Linked DNA regions of Homo sapiens. The gene in region 1 interacts genetically with each later gene. Each region holds a gene or a part of one and is shown in the gene's direction. Other genes may lie near its edges. The genes, in order: FBXO8 and PTAR1.

The links.
Region 2: changes in FBXO8 (region 1) and PTAR1 are lethal when combined (synthetic lethality), as found in Homo sapiens cells (one study listed by BioGRID).

The regions. Positions count from the first base shown.
Region 1 is NC_000004.12:174,235,940-174,238,787, reverse strand, and holds the end of FBXO8 (F-box only protein 8), read left to right. Parts: intron 1-1,188; coding exon 1,189-1,376; 3' UTR 1,377-2,130; downstream 2,131-2,848. UniProt on the Homo sapiens protein: May promote guanine-nucleotide exchange on an ARF. Promotes the activation of ARF through replacement of GDP with GTP.
Region 2 is NC_000009.12:69,753,074-69,757,011, reverse strand, and holds part of PTAR1 (protein prenyltransferase alpha subunit repeat-containing protein 1), read left to right. Parts: intron 1-3,938.

The DNA.
Region 1 (2,848 bases):
TGTGTGTGTGTGTGTATATATATATATACATGGCTATGTATATATAGCCATTTATATTTTTTATATATTACCTACAAATTTATATATAAATATATATATTACAAATTTATATGTATACAAATGTCTATGTCTATATACACATATAGACATACACATAGACTGTGTCTATGTCTATATACACATATAGACATATAGACATTTGTATATATATAAAGTTGTTATATATGTCTGTTTGTGTGTACTTCTATCTATATGTGTATGTTTGTATGCTTATGATATAGCCTGAATCTTCTACATATTGTTTCAATTCATATAGCTTATCTTTTCATATCAAAAATTTTATTGTGCTTATCTGATTAAACAGAAATTACAAAACTGTTCCTGTCGTGTGAAATTTGTTGAGCATGCTTTACAAGACATAATGTTCAACTTGGCTTTCTTAAGACTGCAGGATTCCGAAATATCAGCACTATAGTAGTAGAACTATTATGACGATTGTTACTATTTTAATATTAAACATCAAATATTACCCTAGGCATATATAAAATCTTGTTGCATGGTGCTCAGGTGTAGCAGTCTTTTCCCTAAAGATTTGCTTTCAAAATTAATATGTAAGTTCCACAGGCCTTTATAACATCTTAAATGAGAATATTAATAATCTTTTGAGTTATTTACATTTTATTTTCTAGTACCAGATTCATGTTTTCTTGTCATTAAAGATGCTCTCAAATTAAAATAGGTTTTTATGAAAGCATTCTATATAAATTTTTTTTTAGAAAGAGGAGATAAATACAAATGTATTTTATGGATGTTTGAATAGAAATATCACATTTGAAAGCAAAGACGAAAATAAAGCCAATTCTAAATTTTTTAAATCTAGAATGAATTTTTACTATACACTCCTAAACTGTTCTAAAGTTCTTTTGAAATGAAGGAAATGCATGCTTAGTTAGTATTAAGATAGGATGATAACCATCCTGGTTTGCTCAGGATTGAGTTTCCCAGGATGACAGGACTTTCAGTGCAAAACTGGGAAGAGTCTAGACAAACTGGGATGGATTGGTCACTCTGTATTTATGAGCTAATCTTGATATCTTGAAATTATGAACATTTTTGCCTTATATAATGCCATTGGAATCATATTTTGTAAACCAACTAATAATTTGAACTGTTTCTTTTTCTTTCCAGATGCTGTCTATGTACTGTGCTACTCTTTGATTCTACTTTCCATTGACCTCACTAGCCCTCATGTGAAGAATAAAATGTCAAAAAGGGAATTTATTCGAAATACCCGTCGCGCTGCTCAAAATATTAGTGAAGATTTTGTAGGGCATCTTTATGACAATATCTACCTTATTGGCCATGTGGCTGCATAAAAAGCACAATTGCTAGGACTTCAGTTTTTACTTCAGACTAAAGCTACCCAAGGACTTAGCAGATATGGGGGTTACATCAGTGCTGGTCATTGTAGCCTGAGTATACAATCAAGCTTCAGTGTGCAACCTTTTTTTCTTTTGCCATTTTCTATTTTAGTAATTTCCTTGGGGAACTAAATAATTTTGCAGAATTTTTCCTAATTTTGTTTATCACGTTTTGCACAAAGCAGAGCCACTGTCTAACACAGCTGTTAACGAATGATAAACTGACATTATACTCTAAAAGATGGTGTATTTGTGCATTAGATTTGCCTGAAAAACTTTATCCATTTCCATTCTTTATACAAATACCATGTAATGTGTACATATTTAACTAAAGAGATTTATAGTCATAATTATTTTATTGTAAAGATTTTAACTAAAGTTTTTCCTTTTCTCTCAAACTGAGTTCTGAAATTTATTTGATTCTGATCTGAAACTATTGTCTTCGTAAAAGTTAGATCTGACTTCAGACAGAAACCAATACCAGCTTCCTTTTCCTTTAAACTTTGAAGAGTGTTGATTTGTTACTATATTACTATGCAAAACTGGCAGTTATTTTTATAATATAAATTTATAATTTGATTTTTTATTTTAAAAACTGGGTTAATCAAGTCTCGGTAAGTCCTTTAAACCATTTAGGATTTTTAAAACATCAAAATTTATGATTTACATTCATAGGAATAAAATAAAATATTATTAGAACTCTGGTAAATGTTTGCTTGCTTATATGTGGTGTGATTATGCAAACTTTACTATTTTTGTAATCTTGATGATCCCCGTTCAGAGTCCATTGAGAAAGACATATTGTGAAGAACAGTAAACACTCTTTACTCATTGGTTCAGTGAATGTCTATCCAGGGCTTTACATGTGTTAACATTGTGCGAGGTACTAGACATGGGCCCTGCTCTCACAGATAATACATAACTGGGTACTGAGAAGAAAAAATCTGCTGAATGGAGAGCAACTATATGAAGTATATCTTAATTAACAATTATTTAATAGTTAAAATATGCAGCATTAGAATGATAGAGAACAGTGTAGTTATATGGTAAGTTAAAAGTGACCTCCAAGTAAAAAGCATAACCTTAGGAATGAAATAGTATGTGATGGGTTGAGCTACTAGTTTAGAGGAGGGAGTTGAGGGAGGTAAAAACTCCTTACTAGAGGTATTGAATCCTGGCTTCCTTCCAGATCTGACCCTTAGTCAAAAGTGGTTGTCAATATTACAACTGGAATGTTGTACTACAGATTTTTCAAGGACAAGACATACGATAATCAAATTTTGAATGTCTAAGGGACTTTTAGACTGATAGTAAATAATTTCTAAGATTCTGAAGCAAATATCCAAATCATTTTTGCATGTGCACAATTTTGAATTCCATGACAATTCTAATTTTTAACTTCAAAACTGCTTTATTACATTTCAAAA
Region 2 (3,938 bases), on another chromosome or scaffold:
TGTGCTGTTCCATATGGTAGCCACTAGCCATAGTAGCTATTGAGCAATTGAAGTGTCCCTAATATGAACAGGGACCACATTTTAAATTTTATTTAATTTAAATGGATTTGTACGTAGTGGCTCCATGTGCCTAGTGACTACTGTGATGCATAGTGCAGGTGTAGATGAGACCTAAGACTAACTGCATGAACAGTAAATTAACCCTCCAAAGTAGTTTATAGTAAAAGTTGGATAGGAGCATGATGAGCAAGTGCTATGGGAGTCTAATAGAAGTGGAGAGGAGGCTGGTTATGTCTCGGATAGGGGTGCTAGTGGAGGTGGGTTTTAAGCCAAGTATTAAAGTCTGGGTAGGATTTGTAGTCTCAGAGGGAGCCAGAGACCTCCACAGGGAGCAGTGAATTGACCTAAACAAGCAAAGTGTGGCTGAGAAGGTACAGTAGGGCCAGATTATGGAGATCCTTGACTCTCATTTAATTTCTTTCATTCCATTCATACATTCTGCAAAAGAGTACCTCCATTTGACAGGCACAATGCTGGTCTCTGGGTATACAGGGTTAAAAACTGGGTGGTTTAATGAACAAACCACACATGGTCCCTATCCTAATGGAACTTTAATCAGTCAACATACAGATTATGAAAAGAGTCATAAAAAGTAAGAAGGGTACTTAGAATAAAAACAGGGAGACCCAATTTAGATTATAAGGTCAAGAGGTTCTTTCTGAGGCAATAGCATTTAAACTGAGTGAGACATGAGGGGTGAAGAAAAGCTGGCTCAAGGATGTACACTTCTAAGGCAATGGGTAGGCACCAGTGAACATTTTTTAGTAAAGAATGATGAAAGGCAATTTTAGATCGTCTGCAAGGTGAACTGAAGAATAGAAAGCCAGAGTCTACTGGGCTTCTTATACCTGATTTTTATTTATTTAAATAATAGTGTAGTATAGTTGTAAAAATTTGAGTTTAGAGTTTGATAGTCTAAGCTGTCAAACTGGATTTGAGTCTTTGCTTGTCGTTTATTAACTGAGTAGACTTAGACAAGACTCTTCCTCTGTAAAATGGGGTCAAAATTCCTACTTTATGAGATTATTGTGCAGAATAAAATATATGTAAAACCTAACCGTGCATGGCAAGTAACAATAAACACTAGTAATTTGTGTAGCTTTTTCTAAATAAGGTCAGTAATATAATTTCAGTGAAACATAAGTTGATAATCTTTGGAATTAATGAGAAAGCCTATAAGGTTTCTGAAATATCTAAATCACCAGGAGAATTTTAATTATCAATATGCAACGGTCAGTTCCTTTAGATATATTTTACTAGCTTTCCTTTTTGGTCATGCTGGAAAGAATTCCAGTTCTTTTGGGGGGTGGGAGCAGAACAAAATGAAAATAACTACTATTTAGATTTAAAATGTTTTTACCATTTCCTGAATCCTTGGACTGTTTTCTGTTTGGTTGCTCCACACTATAGGATTCAGTTTGAGTATTTGGGTACCATCCATCCCTCCCAGAAGGTAAGCTGGTTGATGCAACTTTTGTGGATAATAAGTGGCTCTGTTCTGGTTGATGGTGTTTCTGAGAAGTATAGACAGAGAAGCTGTCTAAACATAAGGAACAAAGTCAGTATCAGTGTTACATGAACTGTGAACATCATCTGGAAGCCAATGAATGGATCCCTATTGTGAAGTGAGGCGCTCAAAGAGATGTATCATACTTTGATCTTAAGTAAATGTGCTGGTTCGTTCCACATTGCTCTGCCTTTGGAGCAGTCTGTGATGAAGGTGACCTAAAAAGTGAGCACCATTAGAACTTGATTGCTGTCCCAAACCATCATATCTTTAAAAATCCTATGATCTTCTTAGTTATGCAGGTAATTGAATACCTTGTTAAATACCAGGAATGTAAATGGCCAGAAACCTAACAGTGTAAAAGAGTGAAATTTATTAGTAGTTCCTCTCATAAGACTATTTTGTAAAGAAATAACTAGAGATATGTTTGATATTTATAGCACATTCATTGCAACCATTAAAAATATCAAAATTGATTATGTGGGAAAATGTTTAATGGGAATTGCTCAGTTTTTTTCCATAAAGGATTATAGAATATGTTCAATATGATCCCACTTTTTGAAAATACTCAGGAAAAAAGGATGTATACCCAGCTGGGCACAGTGACTCACACCTGTAATCCTAACACTTTGGGAGGCTCAGTGGGAGGATCACTTGAGGCCAGGAGTTTGAGACCAGCCTGGTCAACATAGTGGGACTACATCTCTACCAAAAAAAAAAAATATATATATATATATTAGCTGGGCATGGTGGTGCATACCTGTAGTCCCAGCTACTCAGGAGATCTGAGGTGAGAGGATTTCTTGAGCCCAGGAGTTGGAGGCTGCAGTGAGTGAGGATTGCACCACTTCACTCCAGCCTGGACGACAGAGCAAGATCCTGTCTCAGGAAAAAAAAAAAAAAAAAAAAAAAGATATATACCCAAACATGTTAATAGCAAAACAGGGATTACAAGTGACTTTTAGGGTTTTTTTTGTTTTGTTTTGTTTTTCCTGAGTTTTCCAGTGTTTCTTTAGTATGGAATTAGAACTTAAATTTCCAGAAAAATAGAAGGAATTGATCTAAATCCTGTTTTGCTCTTTGTTCTAGTGTCAGGGGTTTGGGGCTAAGTATTAGGAGGCCCAGATTCTTAACTTAGCCACTAGCAATATGACCTTAGATAATCCTCATAAACCTCACTGTACCTCAGTTTCCTCATCAGATGAAATGACAGAGGAATGCAGTCCCTTCCAACTTTAAAATGATTTTGGAAGGAATCCTATTCGAAATTGGCTAGAAAAAAGTGGACTGTGACTTAAGGGATGAGACACAGAAGTCTGAAGTCAAACACACTATTATTTGGAAGCTTACTGACCTACCTATGTTTACAAAGTATGTGTAATGTTTTTTAGAAAGCAGCATAACACTGTGTCTTAGGGTCACATAACTTGACAAAGGCTTAAATTCTTTGCCTCGGCTTTCCATTATTAACCAATGAACTCTACTGGTGGATCTTTGTCTAGCACTTCATAGTTTGCCACATTTTCACATGACATTATTTGGTTTCCATAACAGGCAGGGAAGATACTATTCCTGTGTTTCAGATGAGGATACTGATGGCAAGTGACTTGCCGAATTCTCATTGCCTGTCAGTGGATAGAATGGAAACTAACTAGAACTCTGGACTTCCAATCAAGTACTTTTGTCTTTACACCCTACTACCTCTTCATGTGTTTTTCCCCCTAGTGCTCTACATTATCTGTTAAGACTGTTTTTATTCTCCTCACATGAAAATAGCTGCTAGGTTTCTCAGTCATAAAATTTGAAAGCTGGGTGAAATCTATCCCATTTGCCTTACTGGAGGTATAATACAATTCTACCATTTTACAAATGAGGAAACTGAAGTCTACAGAAGCCAAAATGACCTGATACTGATATGTATGTATATGTGTGTGTGTATATATCTATTTCCATCCAGGACTTGGACACATGCTGTTTTCAGTATACTTTATTAGGAGAAAATCAGAGATAATGTTCTTTTAGAGGGACAAGAAGTGAAAACTATTAATTTGAATATTATCACTAAAGTACCAGGATAATCAGCCTTTCAGGAAGCAGCTATTGGGCACCTGCTATATCCAAGCCATTCTTATTTTATAAAGTATTTCTTGAAAGAACAGACAGTCAAAGCAGTGTGTTTTTTAATTGTGCAGATGGCTCTTTTCTGTAGTTTAGATACCAAATTATTAGCTGGGCATTTTAATCCTAGTTTAATTAGTGAGCAAGACAGGTTTTTATATTGTGAATTTAAGTTTAAAAAAAAAATCCCCCCCAAAAACAAACCATACCCAGAAACAGGATTCTTTTATTCTTGTTACTATAACAGTTATAT